Homo sapiens: one gene and its partners. Changing the gene in region 4 together with the main gene of any one other region gives a genetic interaction. Each region holds a gene or a part of one and is shown on either strand. Other genes may lie near its edges.

Region 1 (4,639 bases), on a different chromosome or scaffold from region 4:
CTAAAAGCCAGGCATGCTGCTAAACATCCTTCAATTCATAGGACAGCCCCCCCAACAACACAGAACCATCAGGCCCAACATGTCAATAGTGTCTAGGTTGAGAAACCTCGTGTTAATGCAGTCCGGCTTCAGGAAGACAAGAAAGGGCATGACTTGACTTATATCATTGAAACCTGCTGGAGTAAACAGCCTCAGGCTTGGTTCGATCCAGTTGCCAAAACTTCCTCCCTGGGAATCTGTCTCTCTCCATTGTTCAGCTCTACTGTCCTTGAGGTTGTCCTCACCCTCAGGCGGGCTCTCCCCTCTTAGCGGTCCCCTTGGAAAGAGGGTGTTAGAGCCCAGTTTCACTGGCCCAGCCTGGGCCACATACCTATCCCTGAACCAGCCACAGGGATGCAGCCTGGATCACGTGTCCACCCCTGGTCACAGGCAAAAGGGCCAGCCCACTCAAATCGTGTGTACTGAGAGAATGTGGGGTAAGAAGCATCCCAAGAGGAAAACGGAGGGGCTGTTACCAGGAGGAAAAAATGGATGGTAGAGAGACCCAGACAAGGGCATCCATCCCAGAAACCTGGGCGGTAGTGGCTTACACAAATGCTGGGTTCCGTTTTTCTCCCGTGATGAGGAATCTGGGGATTGTCTCTCCAGGGCTGATGGTGCCTTCGATTGCTTTCTGTCCACTGGCTTTTGCATGATTTTTCCTTTTCTTTTTGAAGATTAAATAAACCTCTTATTCTGGAATAATTTTAGAGGTACAGGAAAGTTGCAAAGACAGTACAGAGAGGTCCTGTATACCCTTGGCCAGTTTCCATTGTCAATATCATACATTACTATGATCCGTTTCTCACCACTGAGATACTAATGTCAGTACATTACTCTTAACTGAACTCCATACTTTATTATTCAGATTTCACCAGATTTTTTTTTTAATGTTCACGCCTTCCAACATTTTTTTTTTTTTTTTTTTTGAGACAGAGTCTTGCTCTGTCGCCCAGGCTGGAGTGCAGTGGCGCGATCTTGGCTCACTGTAAGCTCTGCCTCCCAGGTTCAGGCCATTCCCCTGCCTCAGCCTCCTGAGTAGCTGGGACTACAGGCGCCTGCCACCACACCCAGCTAATTTTTTTTGTATTTTTAGTAGAAGCAGGGTTTCACCGTGTTAGCCAGGATGGTCTTGATCTCCTGACCTCGTGATCCGCCCACCTCGGCCTCCCAAAGTGTTGGGATTACAGGTGTGAGCCACCATGCCAGGCCCCAACATTTTATATTTAGTTGTTTGCTTAATATTTCTGCCCTTCACCAGAGTGTTAGCTTCTTGAAGGCAGGAACTTCGTGTGTCTGGGTCACTGCCAAACCCCTCAGGCCCAGAACAGGCCCTGGCACATAATAAGTGCTTAGGTAGGCCGGGCGCAGTGGCTCACACCTGTAATCCCAGCACTTTGGGAGGCAGGAGGATCACCTGAGATCAGGAGTTCGAGACCAGCCTGACCAACATGGTGAAACCCCTTCTCTACTAAATGAAAAAAATTAGCCGGGCGTGGTGGCGGCCACCTGTAATCTCAGCTACTCAGGAGGCTGAGGCAGGAGAAACACTTGAAACTGGGAGGCCGAGGTTGCAGTGAGCCGAGATTGCACCATTGCACTCCACCCTTGGGCAACAAGAGTGAAAACTCCATCTCAAAAAAAAAAATTTTTTTAGGCTGGGCGCGGGGGCACATGCCTGTAATCCCAACACTTTGGGAGGCCAGGGTGGGTGGATCACCTAAGGTCAGGAGTTTGAGACTGGCCTGGCCAACATGGAGAAAACCCGTGTCTACCAAAAATACAAAAAAAATTAGCTGGGCGTTGTGGTGGGCACCTGTAATCCCAGCTACTCGGGAGGCTGAGGCAGGAGAATCGCTTGAACCTGGGAGGCAGAAGTTGCAGTGAGCCGAGATCACACCATTGCACTCTAGCCTGGGCAACAGAGCGAGAGTCTGTCTAAAAAAAAAAGATTTAAAAAGTGCATAGTTAATATTTGTTGAATAAAACTTGGGATGTATCATATCTTGCAGGTGCGTTAGGGCAGAAAAATTAGTGTTGCCTCCTTTGTCTGAGTCTGAGTTTCCTTATCAGTTAAGTTAAAGGGCTTATTTGAAATTCTCTGTTATGTGCTGAGATGGAAATGGTGTTAGAAGTTATAGGATGCGGCCGGGCGCGGTGGCTTATGCCTGTAATCCCAGCACATTGGGAGGCCAAGCAGATCACAAGGTCAGGAGATCGAGACCATCCTGGCTAACACGGTGATACCCCATCTCTACTAAAAATACAAAAAATTAGCTGGGCATGGTGGCGGGTGCCTGTAGTTCCAGCTACTTGGGAGGCTGAGGCAGGAGAATGGCATGCACCCAGGAGGCGGAGCTTGCAGTGAGCTGAGATTGCGCCATTGCACTCCAGCCTGGGCTACAGAGCGAGACTCTGTCTCAAAAAAAAAAAAAAAAAAGGAAGTTATAGGATACAGCATAGATAGGCAGGGTATTGGTGCTGTTATTCTCCTTTTTTTACCCCCTTTTATGCTCCTCTAGGTCATTTTTCCACCCCAAGAAAGAGGGTAAAGCAAAGAAGCCTGAGAAGGAGGCATCCAATAGCAGCAGAGAGACGGAGCCCCCTCCAAAGTATGTCACAGGGCTGGGATATGGTGAATTTTTTCCTTTAGCAGTCAGGATTGTCTTGGTTGCAAGTGTTCAAACCTAATGCAAAATGTCTTGGGGCCCAAAAAACTTTTTCAGCCAGGTGGCCAGAAGTCCAAGAGCAAGAGCAGCTGCAGGCACAGCTGGATCCAGGGCCTCGGAGTTGTCTGTACGTCTCTGTTTCTGCAGGTCTTGGCCTCGTTCTAGAACCAGACATTCTCCATAATGCAGAGAAGCTGGCCGCTGGCCACTGGCCACGTCTTGATGCTGTCTCATCTAAGTAGAAGACAACAGTACTCTTTTTTTTTTGAAATGGAGTCTCACTCTCACCCAGGCTGGAGTGCAATGGTGTGATCTCGGCCCACTGCACTCCAGCCTGGGCGACAGAGCAAGATTCCATCTCAAAAAAAAAAAAAAAAAGGCATCCCAATAGATGCTGGAGACCAATGGCAACCTTAGGCAGGGACTCCATTTGCTCCTCAGCATCACCCATCACAGGGCAGGCACTCTGGAGACTTCCAGAGATGTGTGATGGGTGGGTGAGTGGATGAGTGGGCGGGTGGATTAATGCACTGATGGATGAAATGATGAGATTTGCTGAGGAGACAACCAGAAAATGTTCATTGGATGCTTGAAAGGAAGGGAAGGAAACAGCAAAGAAACCAAAGTGTTTGCGGGCAGTGCCCCCACTCTGCCTGCTGTAGTCGCCCCTTTACACCCCCATTTCCCCACCTTCCAGGGCGGCACTGAAGGAGTGGAATGGAGTGGTGTCCGAGAGTGACTCTCCGGTGAAGAGGCCAGGGAGGAAGGCGGCCCGGGTCCTGGGCAGCGAAGGGGAAGAGGAGGATGAAGCCCTTAGCCCTGCTAAAGGCCAGGTAGGTCCCCATCACCCTGCCCATTTTTACCAGAAGAAACTAATTCCCATTAACCTTTGGAACAGAGTGCAGCAGCTGTTCAGGAGAATTCTGGAGAAATTGCCCGGGAGAGGTAGATGTGTTTCCTGGTTGTGTCGGGGGCAGACACAACCTGGTCCTAATTGCCCCTGCCCTAGGACCTCGGGTGGGCTCCTTCACCACGTTAGGTCTTGGATGCCTCAACTGTAACATGCAGCTCCTGGTAACACCTTCCTCATAGGGTGACTGGGAAGATGAAATGAGTCGATTTACATACAGATCTGAGAATAATGCCTGATGGTAAAACAAGGGCTCAAGGCCCAGCACAATGGCTTACGTCTGTAATCCCAGCACGTTGGGAGGCCAACGTGGGAGGATCACTTGAGGCCAGGAGTTCGAGACCAGGCTGGGCAACATAGCGAGACCCCATCTCTACAAAAAAATGTTTTAAAAATTAGCCAGGTGTGGTGGTGCATGCCTGTGGTGCTATCTCCTTGAGAGGCTGAGGCAGGAGGATCGCTTGAGCCCGGGTGTTCAAGGCTGCAGTGAACTGTGATTGTACCACTGTACTCCAGCCGGGGTGACAGAGCAAGACCTTGCTTCAAAAAAAAAAAAGCAAAAAAATAAGGGTTCAAAAGTATATCTAGCCTCTCCTGTGGTCAGAGGGCTTTTTAACTTCTCCAAATACATTGGACCACTCTCTTCCCCTGTTTAAGTCATTTAATGCTTGTTCATTGCTTTGTGGATGATGTCCAAAGCGTGGTGCTGCTTATTCTGTCAGTGGTGAGGTCAGGTCCTGTGACTCCCTGCCCAAACCCCCTGGTATTACCACCACAGGCCAAAGCCAGGCCTTGTGGAAACCTCCCAGGCCCCTCCTGCTGCTCCTCTCTTCCCCCGCCCATCACATCTGCAGCCGCATCCACAGCTCCTCCTCAGCTCGCTCCATCCTGGCTTCCCACACCCACCAGGTGCACTTCCACCTCTGGGCCACTACCTTCTTTCCCAGCCTAAAACTCTCTTTCCCAGATACACGCCTGGCTCAGTCCCCTGCTTTCTTCCATGCTTTGCTCAGATATCACT
Region 2 (4,639 bases), on a different chromosome or scaffold from region 4:
CTGACTTCCTTCCCCACGGAGGGACACAGCTGGACCAGAAGAGAAGTGCAGGCAGTCTCCCACACCCTCTCCTTCCAGGGACAATGTGCTCTTCCCCAGTAAGATGTCCCAGTGAGCCCTGTAGCCCAACCTGGATATAATTTGGCCACTCCCTTCCCCTTTCAGAAGCCGTCCTTGGTACTCCCAAACCTTTCCCTCCGACTGGGACCGGCCCTCCCCTTTGGGGGATGTGGCCTCTGTCTGCTCACTTACAAAAGGCAGGATTGATCGGTGTGTCCACAGGTGCACAGGAGGCACTAGCACAGAACCTGGCATAAGTGAGGCTCTCCTAGGTGGGAGCTGCCATCCTGATGGACATTAGAGTCACCTCTGCTCCCCTGGAGGCTGCTGAGAATGGAGGGCCCTCAGGACGCAGGCCCTTTGTCTGTGGGAGGAACCAGTGCCCATGTGGACCAACCAGGACACAAAAGGATATGGCAACCAGCTCTAGGGATATGTCCTGAGGCCACACTGCTGCCCACAAACCTCCTTCCATGGGGACCTTCCCATATAGCAATCCCCAGATTGAAATCAATCCAGGATGAGAAAACACATCCTCTTGAGCAGACAGCTTGTCTTCTCTCTCTGCTTTGGTATTTACCCTTGGATCTTGGGGACAGCTCCAAGAGAGAAGGAGCAGAAGTCAGCAGAAACCCACTGCAGCTGCTGAGAATCCAGACACGCTGCTCACTGCAGAGGCTGCACCACATCCGGTGGCTGTGGGGGGACTTGCTGTGGCTTCATCTAGGGAGGTGCATTAGTCAGGGTTCTCCCTAGAAACGGAATCTCCTTAGAAACAGATAGGGTGTTTCTTCTTATCTCTAATGCATGTATGTATGGAGACAGAAAGAGATAGAGAGATAAGAATTTATTATGGGAATTGGATAATGTGATGATGGAGGCCAAGAAGTCCCATGATATATCATCTGCAAGCCAGAAACCAGGGACACTGGTGGTGTAAATTCAGCCTGAGTCCAGAAAGGCCTGAGTCCCTGGAGTTCTGAGGGCAGGAGAAGACGGATATCCCAGCAGCAGAAGAGAGAGCAAGTTCTTCCTTTCCTCTGCCTTTTGTCCTGTTCATGCCCTCAATGGATTGGATGGGGTCTGGCGTCTCAGGGTGGGTGGACTTCCAGAGGGGTGGGACTTCCAGTAGGGGTTCAGGGAGCTGTGTATTGATGGTGGCTGGGGTCTGGGAACCCAGAGAACCAAGGGAGACGGCTCACTCATTCCTCTCCTCACTTACTCATTCCTGTGCCCATTCACTCATTCCTCTCCTCACTCACTCATTCTAATACCAACTCACTCATTCCTCTCCTCACTCACTCATTCCTCTCCTCACTCACTCATTCCTGTGCCCATTCACTCATTCCTCTCCTCACTCACTCATTCCTCTCCTCATTCAGTCATTCCTGTCCTCACTCACTCATTCCTTTTCTCACTCATTCATTCCTCTCCTCACCCACTCATTCCTCTGCCCACTCACTCATTCATATCCTCACTCACTCATTCCTCTACCCACACTCATTCCTCTCCTCACTAATTCCAATACCAACTCACTCATTCCTCTCCTCACTTACTCATTCCTCTATCCATTCACTCATTCCTCTCCTCACTCACTCATTCCTCTGCTCACTTAGTCATTCCTCTCCTCACTCAACTCATTCCTCACTCACTCATTCCTCTCCTCACTCACTCATTCCCCTCCTCACTCACTCATTTCTCTCCTCACTCATTCATTCCTTTACCCACTCACTCATTCCTCTACCCACTCACTCATTCCTCTCCTCACTCATTCCCTTCCTCCCATTCCTTTACCCACTCACTCATTCCTCTCCTCACTCACTCATTCCTCTCCTCACTTACTCATTCCTCTCCCCACTCACTCATTCCTCTCCTCACTCACTCATTCCTGTGCCCATTCACTCATTCCTCTCCTCACTCACTCATTCCAATACCAACTCACTCATTCCTCTCCTCACTCACTCATTCCTCCCCTCATTCAGTCATTCCTGTCCTCACTCACTCATTCCTCTCCTCACTCACTCATTCCTCTGCTCACTCACTCATTCATATCCTCACTCACTCATTCCTCTACCCACACTCATTCCTCTCCTCACTAATTCCAATACCAACTCACTCATTCCTCTCCTCACTTACTCATTCCTCTACCCATTCACTCATTCCTCTCCTCACTCACTCATTCCTCTGCTCACTTAGTCATTCCTCTCCTCACTCAACTCATTCCTCTGCTCACTTAGTCATTCCTCTCCTCACTCAACTCATTCCTCACTCACTCATTCCTGTCCTCACTCACTCATTCCTCTGCTCACTCTCTCATTCCCCTCCTCACTCACTCATTTCTCTCCTCACTCATTCATTCCTTTACCCACTCACTCATTCCTCTACCCACTCACTCATTCCTCTCCTCACTCATTCCCCTCCTCCCATTCCTTTACCCACTCACTCATTCCTCTCCTCACTCGCTCATTCCTCTCCTCACTCACTCGTTCCTCTCCTCACTCGCTCATTCCTCTCCTCACTCACTCGTTCCTCTCCTCACTCACTCATTCCTCTCCTCACTTACTCATTCCTCTCCTCACTCACTCATTCCTCTCCTCACTCACTCATTCCTCTCCTCCCTCACTTATTCCTCTACCCACACACTCATTCCTCTCCTCACTCACTCATTCCTCTACCCATGCACTCATTCTTCTCCTCACTCATTCCTTCCTCTCCTCACTCACTCATTCTTCTGCTCGCTCACTCACTCATTCCTCTGCTCACTCTTATTCTTCTCCTCACTCATTCCTCTCCTCACTCACTCATTCCTCTCCTCACTCACTCATTCCTCTACCCATGCACTCATTCCTCTCCTTACTCACTCATTCCTCTCCTCACTCACTCATTCCTCTCCTCACTCACTCATTCCTCTCCTCACTCACTCATTCCTCTCCTCACTCACTCCTTCCTCTCCACACTCACTCATTCCTCTCCTCACTCACTCATTCCTTTCCTCACTCACTCATTCCTCTGCACTACTATTTCCATCCTGTTTACCTTCAAATGCTAATCTCTTCTCAAACACCCTCACAGACACACACAGCAATAATGTTTGACTGGCTATCTGGGCATCCCTTAGCCCAGTCTAGTGGACACCTAAAATTAACCATCACAGGAAGTGACAGCCCTTGACTTGCTTTCAGATCACTCCTACAGAGGAGGGCTTGAAGAACTCGACCCAGATGTCGGCCACCTATTCCCAGGGCTTTACGGTATGGCTGGGTCCCATCATCCCCTTCATCGTTTTATGCCACCCTGACACCATCCGGTCTATCACCAATGCCTCAGGTACCCATGCAGAGCTTGTGGTGGTGGGTGCCAGACCAAGCTTCTGTGTGGTCTCTGCAGTACCCACGTCCCTCCTTGAGTACTCGTGCCCCTCATTGAGACTTCCTTCTCAATGTCTTCTCCCTCCATTGCCATCTGCTCCCTGTCTTGGTGTTCTGGGCACCACTGGGGCTCCAAGAGGCCTCAATTCAGGGCCCTTTCTGGAAGGAACCCCCATGCTTAAGGACACGGGTCTAGACAGAGACATTTCCAGCCTCATAGGGTCAGGAATGGGCAAGAGAGAGATGGGTATGACAACACAGAGAACTGGGTGTCTGCTGGGGCAGGCTGGAATGTTTCCTGGAGGAAGAGTTGTTGGAGCTATGTCTAGACCAATAAGTAGGATTTTTTAAGTGTGGGGCAGGATGATGCAGTGGGCATCATTGGTATTTGGGGTCCCAGCCAGTCCTTGCACCAGCCTTGCCCATCCCTCAGTCCAAAGCGGTAGGAGGATTTGTGGCTGGTGGAGAATCTGGGCTGCTATTTATGTGACATCCACCTATGATGGGTCAGTTCCTTCTACCTCATCCTATCACTCATCCACCCTAAGTTTCCTGCTCTCCTCCTATGGGCTTCAGGATTCTCCAATAGGAGAACCCACACCAGCTGCTTGACCTCCCCTTGCTCTCTGCTCTTCTCATCCTTGGACACACCAGGCTGAGCTAGGGAAGTGGCAGCATCCCACAAAATCTATGGCTCTGACCCCCAAATCCTTAGTGACTCTGTGCAGGTCACCAGCTCTCTGGCTGCTGAGGTCTCTTTCAGTTGTGAGTGATGGAAACTCAACTTCGTGTGCTCTAAGCAAATAAAGAGAGTCAAAGGAGTGTAAATTTCAGGGAGGGTGGTCTTCAGGCATGGCTGAATCCAGGTGTCAATGAACATTATCAGGGATCTGTCTCCTTTTCTTAATTTCACCATTTCTCTGCATCACTTTTTCTTTTAAGGCAGCCGTTCTCTTATCTGTCAACCATGGGTCCTAGCAGCTCAGTTCTTGTCCGAAAGCTCACCTTACCCCCAGGGGTCCCATAAATAGCCGCCTATAGTTTCAATATTATACCTGGTTATATCTTTTCTGTTTAACCTGGGATCATATGGAGAAGTCATCATGTGTGTGGCTCAGCTGTGGTCGAGGACACTTGGGGCATGTCAGAGACTTTCTGGTTCTTCTCTGACATGTGATTTGAAATTGTCTTTTCTCCTCCTTGTCATCTCT
Region 3 (4,639 bases), on a different chromosome or scaffold from region 4:
ATGCCTTCCAAGCCCCAGGCCTCACAAACGTGCTGGTATGTCCCAAGCCAGAGGCCACAAGGAGCACCCAGGGGACCCAAGGGAGCTCTTGGATGTCAGGAACAGGACCCTCTTGGGGTCCTTGCCAGGGGAGTGGTCTGAGGCCATCTCCACCAGGAGCCCCCTCCCCACCATGGGCACCAAGGGCGACTCACGCAGACCCACGGGTGCTTCAGGGCCTCATGGGCTGTGATGCGCTTGGCAGGGTTGATGGTCAGCATCTGGTTGATGAGGTTTTTGGCTTCAGGAGTGACGGTGTCCCACTCAGGGGACGGGAACTGCAGAAGGAAACAGCGCCCCGGCCGGGCCTGAAGCTCCCTCTCAGGCAGGGGCAAGAATTCTCCAAGGGGCTTCATCTCCAGCCACGAATCTGGGAGAGCAGGACCCAGGACCTGGCCACAGGTGGCTTCACCCCACTCCTAGCCTCTTCCCACGCTGCCCTCACCCGGCCACACCTGGAGGAAGGGAGCTCATCAGAGAGGGGCTGGTGCACTCACGTCATAGGCACCAGCCTTGATCTGCTGGTACAGCTTGTGCTGGTCCTCGTCCCAGAAGGGTGGGTAGCCCACGAGCAGGATGTACAGGATCACCCCTGCGGATGGGGCCTGTGAGCACCGCAGCCACTTGCAGGGTGCCACCGTCCATGAAGCCCATGCCCTGCACCCTCACTGCCTAGCTCCTGTGGCCCTGGGAGGGCATTGGGGTCCTCAGCATTCCTTTGCCCCCACCTGTGCAGCAGACACTGGGGTAGAAGGGCACAGCCGGCCCCCTGACCTCTGCCCCACACCCACACTATCACAGGGATGAGGGTGATGTCAAGCCCCTCTGCTGCTCCCCACCTCTGTGGGAGGAGACCCCTACCCAAGGAGGTGGCCCTGCCCATGGCCCAACAGCCCCTGACCTCTCTTCTCCACTCCCATCCACCCACCACACTTCTGGACCAGACCTCTGCTGAGCGCAGGCGAGCACTGGGGTGCGCCAGGTTCATGTGAGCAATTCTAATCTGGGTGGAAAGGGGGCTCTTGGCTGTGTGGGCAGACCCCTGCCAGGGCAGCTCAAGGGCAGGTCTGACACAGATAAACCCAGATGAGAGCAAGACGTGCTGGCCACTGCACACTCCAGGATGTAGGTGGGAAGTCCTGAAACACCCGAGGCCCTGCCCCGCACCAACTCAGGCCAGGCCTCACCACATGCCCAGATGTCCACAGGCTTGCCATACGCCTCTTTGCGAAGGACCTCAGGGGACAGGTAGCCTGGTGTGCCAGCGAAACCTAGAGAGAGGGGAAGAGGCCACAAGGGGCTGTCAGCATCACCTCCTGCCCTGCCAACTGCCAGCCAACACACCCTGCCCCTGGCACTCACCAAACCATGCCTGCTGGTCCCCCTGCACCTCGATAGCTAGGCCGAAGTCTGCCAGCTTCACTGCAGCCCCTTTGCACTTGCTGGCCAGAAGCAGGTTCTCCGGCTGCAGGGAGGTGACCGGCACAAGGGTGCATGTTGTTTAAACCCAGAGGTGTTATGTGGGGTTGGGTGGGGGGTTACAAAACAGAGAAAACAGTGGTTTGCAAGAGACAGGTGCACAGGTCTGAGCCCTGCCCCATGGTGTCTGCAGGGCATGGCTGAGCCTTCACCCCAGAGTCCCAGACGCTGAGCCTGCAACCCCACAGCCCCTCTGCCCCTGGGGACAGAGACACAGCAGCTCTGGCCTTTCAGAGGAAACTTGGCTCTCAGCCTGAGCTTGGATCCCCATAACCTGGAAGGGCGACCTGGGGGCTAGTTGGACCAAAACCTCAAGCTCATCCTTACAAGCAAACTAAATGTTCCCCACAGCCCTGGGGCAGACTGTGCAGTGGCTGGGGGCTCCCATGGCCCTCGGACTCCCACTGGCTGAGAGGCTGCAATGGCCCTCCCTTCCCTCCCTGTTTCTCACTCCTCAGAGACCTGGGATGTTGGGGGCTGCTTGAGGGGAAGTTCAGGTATTTCCTGCTGAGATGGTGACCCCCAAAGGGCAAGGAGAAACGCCCAGGGCCCTCAGCACTAGGGGCAGCCCAGGACATCCACCCACCAAGTCCCCCTGGCTCTGGTCATCCCCACTACATGGGGCAGGAAGGAGGCCCCTGCAATGACCCCCTGCCCGCTGGGTATCCACAGGTTGGGGGGTTACTCAGGCCCTGACACAGAGAGCAGTGCCCTTGCTCAAGCCAGAAGGACATCTGCTCCCTATCTTGCAGCAGCGGCCAAGGAGGCCTGGGGGCACTTGGCACTGAGGGCCTGAGGGGGTCCCAGGGCCACTGCATCCCATGGGACCTTCCTGTCCCAGCTTTCAAACCCCATCGGGCTCTGGCCTACCCATCAGCCTCACCATCTCCCAGCGGTGGGGTCTCTTGGCTGCAGGCCTTCCTTGTCCCTGACCAGCAGGGGGCTCCCTGGGGCCCTCGGGTCCCTTGGCCAGCCTCCCAGGCCACCCCTTTGCCCTGGTGAGTACCCCGCTGTCCTGGCACTGCTTCCATCTGATGCACTACCCTCGGGATCACACTGCCGCTTGATGAGCCGCCCAAAGAGACAAAACAGACCACTCCACCCACTTTTAACACTGGTTGTAAACCTCAGAGATCTTGAAATGTGAAAAAGTGACCCCCAGAATGAATGACATATGCTATCCCCATGTGGAAAGACTGCCACAGCCCCGAGCTGTGAGCGCCCCTCAGCAGAAACCCAGAGCTTCCTCGAAAGCTCCAGCCACGCCCTACTGAGCAGGCGGGATGAGGCCGTGTGCCCCCTTGACAAGGCAGCATTGGGGGCTTCTGTCCCCCACCTCCACCTCCTCGTCACCTTGGGGGTCCCAGCCTGCTGGGGCACACGCATCCGTGTCCACCGAGCACCAATCCACAGGCCACTGGACATGGTGATTTTGCCAACGTGAGTGGGTGGAGGCCCCAAGCTCCCCGTGCAGCTACATGGAGAAGTTGGACAGAGGAGGGGTCAGGGGCTGCATTTCTCCACCCAGCCCAGAGCAGACTTGCTGCATGTCCCCCCTCCCCAGAGGAAACAGACCAGCAGTTCTTCCGAAGAGAAGGAGCGTTAAGTGAACATGGACCGTAGGAAGCACTGGGCAAGAAGGCCTGGAGGCTCCAGGGTAGCTCTCAGGCTGTGCCCACCCCTGCTAGGCCACCCAGTGATGCCCCCACCCTGGCTCTTTTGCAGTTCCCTGGGATGACATCAACTGCCCTCTGCTCTCTACCACCCTCCCCAGTGGGGTGAGAGCAACCCCACTACTCTGCTGCTTCCTGGGCTGTCACGATCAAGATGGTGGATTTCTGTCCAGGAGAAAAGGACATCCTGTCCCCCTCAACAGGAGGTTGAGACAGCAAGAATTCTGTTTGTCCCCCAAATTGGGGAGGAGGTACCACTGACCTCTACTTCTATGCCTTGGCTCCAGAGTTAACCAGATAAATCATGGGGTCTGGTAACACAATGTCTGTGGCCCCTCACAGGAGAGCCACTGAGTCCTAGCACCAACCCACGTGGCCCCGAGGGGAGCACCTGGGGGCCCCCTCCTCCCAGAGGCGCCTGAGTGAGGCTGACTCAGGTGAGACAAAGCAGGACATGCTTGGGATGCAGAGATGAGAGGGAACAGGGGGTACGGTGGCGTGTAAAGGGTATAGGAGAGGGTCCCGGATCTGCTCTTGGTGTGACACTCTCCCCAGAGCAGCACAAAGATCATCGATGGCCTAAGGAAAGGTGTGACCCCCATTCAGCATGAAAACCAATGGGGAGGTTGGTCTTAAAAATGCCATCAGGGTGATGGCCCCAGGGTCTGCACTGCTTGCCTGTCTACAGAGAAGCAGCAGGCTGAACCAAGCCTTGGGGAAGGTGGGGTTGAAGAAGGAGGAAAGGAGATTGGAAGGAAGGAAAGGGAGGAAGGAAGGGAGAGAGGAAGGAGCAGAGAGACAGCTAAGCTTCTGAGAGGCCACCCTGTGCCCTGGGGGGTGACCAACCTTCTTCCGAACACAGCCTAGAACTGCTTTGCCCAGACCTGAGCTGGGGGCAGCAGAGACTTGAGGAAAGGGCTGGGAGGACTTGGCAGACCCTGGCGAGTCCTGCTCTCACCACTCTGCTCCCAGCGGCGTCAGCCCTGTCACCTGTGTCCTCATCTGCCACAGTGGAGTCTTGGTGGGGGCTCACAGTTAGACCCTGAGTGGACATTTGTTACTAGCTGATTTCTCTATTGCCCAGGCTGGAGTGCGGTGTAATAGGCTGATTTCTGAAGACTAACCCCTCCCAGCCCTGGAGGTCCGGAGGGGTAGGGAGGGCCATGTGCAGACACCCCTCCAACACACAAGTGCACACACATGCACATGTACACACATGCCCACACAGACACACACACACATGCATACACGCACACATGTACCCACATGTACACATTCACATATGCATGCGCATGAACATGCCCACACATGTACACACTTGTACACACTTGCATACTCATGCATGCACAGTCCCCACACACGTGCATGCACACATGCCATATGTATACACACATGCACACAGGCACACAGACACGCCACCACTCATGCAGACATATGCACTCACACCT
Region 4 (5,474 bases):
TAGTCGCCCATGTTTGATGGAAAAGTCCCACACTGGTACCACTTCTCCTGCTTCTGGAAGGTGGGCCACTCCATCCGGCACCCTGACGTTGAGGTGGATGGGTTCTCTGAGCTTCGGTGGGATGACCAGCAGAAAGTCAAGAAGACAGCGGAAGCTGGAGGAGTGACAGGTGTGTACATACTGGGGCAGCATGGGCATTCAGCCCCCACCCTGAAGCTCCCAGGAGGGCCTCGTCTCAGAGAGCAAAGCAAACCTCCCCCAGCTTGCCCTCTCCCACATGTGCAGATCAAGCGTATGGTGCCCATGTTATTTCAGCAACACCTCCTGGACTCAGCATCATCTGTTGCATGATATTTGGTATTTTGTTTTTCCAGGTGCTTGGAATGTAGCCTTTAAAGTTGTTTTGTTTTTAATATACTTTATTTTTGTTCATGGCAAAAGTAAGCAAAGAACAAAGAGTTTCCAGTACCCCCTCCCCCTCCCACCACACAGGCTCTTCCTTGTCAACACCTCCCACCAGAGTAGTACATTTGTTATAATTGAGGAACCTACACTGACACATCATTATTGCCCAGAGTCCAGAAACTCCTGATGCTCTACATTCTATGGGTTTGGACAAATGTATGATGACATGCATCTGCCATTATAGTATCATACAGAGTAGTTTCAGACCTGCACCCTTCTGCAGCCCCCTTAAGATTAAGGAAGAATAGCTCATCTCTGAGAGGGGAATGAGGTAGGAGGTGGGGCTCAGACACCAAACCAAACCGAGGACTAACTAAAGCAGGGACAGGGACGAAGCAGCTTTCCATAAAACACCCACCAGTGTGCCATATCAGTTTACCATTGCCATGGCAATACCCGGAAGTTACCACCCCTTTCTGTGACAACAATCTGATGACCTAAAAGTTACCACCCCGTTTCTTAACATGTCTGCATAGTCTGCCCCTTAATTTGCATATAATTAAAAGTGGGTGTAAATATGACTTCAGAACTGCCTTTGAGCTGCTGCTCTCAGCACAGTGCCTGTGGGGTAGCCCTGCTCTGCAGGAGCAGTCACAGAGCCATAACACTGCTGCCTCAATAAAGCTGCTTTCTTCTACCACGAGCTCGCTCTTAAATGCTTTCCAGAGCGAAGCCAAGGACCCGCCCAGGCCAATCCCCAATTTAGGGCTGGCCTGCCCTGCATCAGTTTCACTGCTCTAAAAATCCCCTGTTTATCCCTCCTAATTCCTGACAACCACTGCTCTTTTTACTGTCTCCACAGTTTTCTCCTTTTATGTCTTCTCCCATGTCTTAGTACAGGTCACGTCAGGTGACATAGCAGAGCAGAAAGCAAAGCTATTAAAAGCTTTATTAGGAGAGGTAATCCTAGGGCAGCAAGAGAGAGGGAGGAAGGGGAGGCAGGAGGGCAAGCACAGTGCCATACGCTGTCAAGCTGGCCATGGCTTCATGAGAAACAGCCAATGGCTTGGTCATGCAGGATGCCCTCACGCAAGTCCTTTGCCACTAAGCTTCAGAAAAGCCCCTCGGAGCAGGAGGAAGGGAGCAGCATTATCCATTGGTTCTTTCTGCCTCTTGTTTCTCATTGGTTTTAGCTCGCTGGAGGTGCTGTGGTTCTCTGCACTTCCAGACTGTGTTCCTGGCCTCTGCACAGTCACGCCCTGCAGCCAGAGCTGCCTCTAGATCTGGAAGTGGCGGGAGGACTCTCAGTCCCTGGTTTTGAAAGAGTTGGCCTGTTGGTGACAGTGCTGTGTTTGTTACTGTGGTGGTCACTACAGGGTGGGTATGCCAGGGTGTGGCCCTTACCCTGAGGCAGTGACAGTGCTAGGGAACAAGGCTGTGGCACCAGCAGCCACTGTCAGGTAGCCCACCCTGGGGATACAGATGAACTACATCCAGTACGTGTAATTTTATGGTTCCTTATTTCTTTTAACATCTAAATGTTTACTCTATTTGAGAGTTATCCCGGTGTGTGCTGATGTGTGGTGTGAGGCGTGACTCCAGTTTTATTTTTTTCCAGATGATGATCTAGTTTCCCTACTTTGTTTTTTTGTTGTTGTTTTTGTTTTTGTTTTGTTTTCGAGATGGAGTCTCACTCTGTTGCCCAGGCTGGAGTGCTGTGGCATGGTCTTGGCTCACTGCCACCTCCGCCTCCCGGGTTCAGGCGATTCTCCTGCCTCAGCCTCCCGAGTAGCGTGGTGCCTGCCACCATGCCCAGCTAATTTTTTGTACTTTGTTTATTGGCTTATTCATCTCCCCCATTGAGAGGTGTCTTGTATCATGCACAAAATCTCTGTATTTTGGGGTCCTTTTAAAAATTTCTGTTCCATTGTCTGTTTAACCTTTTTTTATATGTAAACTTTTTTCGTTGTTGTTGGAGACGGATTCTCGCTCTGTCACCCAAGCTGGGGTGCAGTGGTGTGATCTCGGCTCACCGTAAGCTCCGCCTCCCAGGTTCATGACATTCTTCTGTATGTAGACTTTTTTTCTTATAGCAGTTTTAGGTTCACAGCAAAATTGAGTAAAGTACAGAGTTTCCATATACCCGCTAGCCCTACCCACCCCACACATACACAGACTTTTGTCCACAATCAACATCGCCACCAGAGTGGTCCATGGTTATAGCTGATGAGCTACATTGACACATCGTTATCGGAGTGGTCCATGGTTATAACTGATGAGCCACATTGACACATCGTTATCCCTCGAGGTCTGTAGTTTACATGAGGGCTCACTCTTTGCATTGTACATTCTGTCAGTTTTAACAAACATACATTGACATGCATGTACCTTTATGGTAGCCTCCAGAGTCCTTTCACTGCCTGGGAAATCTCTGTGCTTTGCCTAGTCATTCCTCCCTCCCCTCTAACCTCCAGTAACCACTGATCTTTTTGCTTTCTCCATAGTTTTTCCTTTTCCAGAATATAATATAGTTGGAATCATACAGAAGGTAGCCTTTTCAGATTGGCTTCTCTCACTAGCAATGTGCTCTTAAGATTCCTCCATGTCGAGCCGGGCACGGTGGCTCACATCTGTAATCCCAGCACTTTGGGAGGCCGAGCCCAGCAGATTACGAGGTCAGGAGTTCGAGACCAGCCTGGCCAATATGGTGAAACCCTGTCTCTATTAAAAATACAAAAATTAGCCGGTGTGGTGGTGTGCACCTGTAGTCCCAGCTACTCGGGAGGCCGAGACAGGAGAATTGGTTGTACTGGGAGGCGGAGGTTGCAGTGAGCCGAGATCATGCCACTGCACTCCAGCCTGGCAACAGAGCGAAACTCCATCTCAAAAAAAAAAAAAAAAAAAGATTCCTCCATGTCTTGTCGTATTGATAGCTCATTTCTTTTTATTACTGAATAATATTCCATTGTCTGGATTACCACAGTTTGTTTATTCATTGACCTGCTGAAGGACATCTTGATTGCTTCCAAGTTTTGGTGATTATGAACAAAGCTGCTAGAAACACCCACCATGTGCAGGTTTTTATGGGGACATAAGTTTTCAACTCCTTTGGGTAATCAAGGAGTACAATTGCTGGATCATGTGGTAAGAGTATATTTAGTTTTGTAAGAAACTGCCAAGCTGTCTTTCAAAAAGCTGAATCATTTTCCATTCCCACCAGCAATAGATGAGAGTTCGTATCATTATACATCTTTGCCAGCATTTGGTGTTATCATTGTTTTGGATTTTGGCCATTCCAATAGATATATAGTATTTTATTATTGTTTTAATTTGCATTTCCCTAATACTGTAATTATCTTGAACATCTTCTCATACGTTTATTTACCATCTGTATATCTTTGGTGAAATGTCTTTTGCCTGCCCCTACCCCCACTTTTTTTTTTTTTTTTTAAGACTGTCTTGCTCCGTCGCCCAGGCTAGAGTGCAGTGGTGTGATCACAGTTCGCTGCAGCCTTGACCTCTGTCTCCCACCTCAGCCTCTTGAGTAGCTGGGACTACAGGTGCGCACCACCATGCCTGGCTAATTTTTTTAAATTTTTTGTAGAGACAGGGCCCCACCTTGTTGCCCAGACTGGTCTCAAACTCCTGGTTTTGCTCTTTTTAAAATCACATTGTTTGTTTTCTTACTGTTGAGTCCTAAGAGTTCTTGGTATATTTTGGATAACAGCCCTTTGTCATATGTCTTTTGAAAATATTTTTTCTCAGTGTGTGGCTGGTCTTCCGCAGAGCAGAAGTTCTTAATTTTGTGAAGTCTAGTTAATCAGTTACTTCTTTAGTGGATTGGGCTTTTGGTGTTTGTAAAAAGTCATCACCAGACCCAAGGTCATATAGATTTTCTTCTAGAAGTTTAACAGTTTTGTGTCTTACATTTAGGTCTGTTATCCATTTTGGTTACTTTTTGTGAAGGGTGTAAGGTCTGTGTCTAGATTCCTTTATTTTTTTTCTTTTTTTTTTTTCGCATGTGGATGTCCAGTTGTTACAGCTCCGTTTGTTGAAAAGACTATCTTTTCTCCATTTTTGCCTTTACTTTTTTGTCAAAGATCAGTGGACTGTGCTTGTGTGGCTCTGTTTCTGGGCTCCCTGTTCTGTCCCACTGATCTACGTATCCTTTTGCCAGTACCACACTGTGTTGACTGCTGTGGCTTCATAGTAAGTCTTTAGGTTGGGTAGTGTCAGTCCTCCAACCTTGTTACTGTCATGGCAGAAGGCAGAGGAGAAGCCGGCAGTTGACATGGCCGGAGCAGGAGGAAGAGAGTGAAAGGGGAGGTGCTACACATTTTTCAACAACCAGATCTCAGGAGAACTCACAAGTATCATGACACAGCACCAAGGGAGAAATCTGTCCCGGTGATCCAGTGACCTCCCACCAGGCCCCACCTCCAACATTCGGGATTATAATTTGATAGGAGATTTAGTGGGGACACAGATCCAAACCATATCACTGTCTGCCCTTGCAGCAGCTGGTCCTTGCAGCTGTTGGTATGTCTGACTAGCTGCTTACTGCAAACAGGTTAGTAACGGCTCAGAATTGGGAATTTTAAAAAGTAAATAAATTTGCCAAGAAAGGGTTCAGAGGGTGAGTATGTCAGATTTAACAGAGGACAGCTCTCATTCTGTTGCCTAGGCTGGAATGTACCGGCATGATCTTAGCTCACTGCAGTTTCTAACTCCTGGGCTCAAGCAATCCTCCCACGTCAGCCTCTGGAGAAGCTAGGACTACAGTTGCCCAACTAATTTTTTAACTTTTTTTTTTTTTTTTTTTTTAAGATAGAGACAGAGTCTCACTGTGTTGCCCAAGGGATCTTGCTTGGCAAGACCCCAGGCTGGTCTCAAACTCTTGGCTTCAAACAATCTCACCTCTGCCTCCCAAAGCACAGGGTTTATAGGCATGAGCAAATACACCTGGCTGACATTTTTGTTGTTCTGTGGCTGTTTTCTCTTTTGTATTCAGGATAGGGGAAGTTGTAGGTTTAGGGGCATAGATATGTTATATCTAGTTATAATTTAAA

What was found. A genetic interaction does not mean that the proteins touch.
Region 1: changes in PARP1 (region 4) and LIG1 together harm fitness more than expected from each alone (negative genetic interaction), as found in Homo sapiens cells (one large-scale study listed by BioGRID).
Region 2: changes in PARP1 (region 4) and CYP4F12 together harm fitness less than expected from each alone (positive genetic interaction), as found in Homo sapiens cells (one large-scale study listed by BioGRID).
Region 3: changes in PARP1 (region 4) and CAMK2B together harm fitness less than expected from each alone (positive genetic interaction), as found in Homo sapiens cells (one large-scale study listed by BioGRID).

Annotation. Positions count from the first base shown.
Region 1 is NC_000019.10:48,160,274-48,164,912, reverse strand, and holds part of LIG1 (DNA ligase 1), read left to right. Parts: intron 1-2,561; coding exon 2,562-2,651; intron 2,652-3,405; coding exon 3,406-3,541; intron 3,542-4,639.
Region 2 is NC_000019.10:15,675,019-15,679,657, forward strand, and holds part of CYP4F12 (cytochrome P450 4F12), read left to right. Parts: intron 1-3,242; coding exon 3,243-3,387; intron 3,388-4,639. UniProt on the Homo sapiens protein: A cytochrome P450 monooxygenase involved in the metabolism of endogenous polyunsaturated fatty acids (PUFAs).
Region 3 is NC_000007.14:44,242,024-44,246,662, forward strand, and holds part of CAMK2B (calcium/calmodulin-dependent protein kinase type II subunit beta), read right to left. Parts: intron 1,505-4,639; coding exon 1,402-1,504; intron 1,311-1,401; coding exon 1,227-1,310; intron 632-1,226; coding exon 537-631; intron 318-536; coding exon 195-317; intron 1-194. UniProt on the Homo sapiens protein: Calcium/calmodulin-dependent protein kinase that functions autonomously after Ca(2+)/calmodulin-binding and autophosphorylation, and is involved in dendritic spine and synapse formation, neuronal plasticity and regulation of sarcoplasmic reticulum Ca(2+) transport in skeletal muscle.
Region 4 is NC_000001.11:226,396,909-226,402,382, reverse strand, and holds part of PARP1 (poly [ADP-ribose] polymerase 1), read left to right. Parts: intron 1-3; coding exon 4-169; intron 170-5,474. UniProt on the Homo sapiens protein: Poly-ADP-ribosyltransferase that mediates poly-ADP-ribosylation of proteins and plays a key role in DNA repair.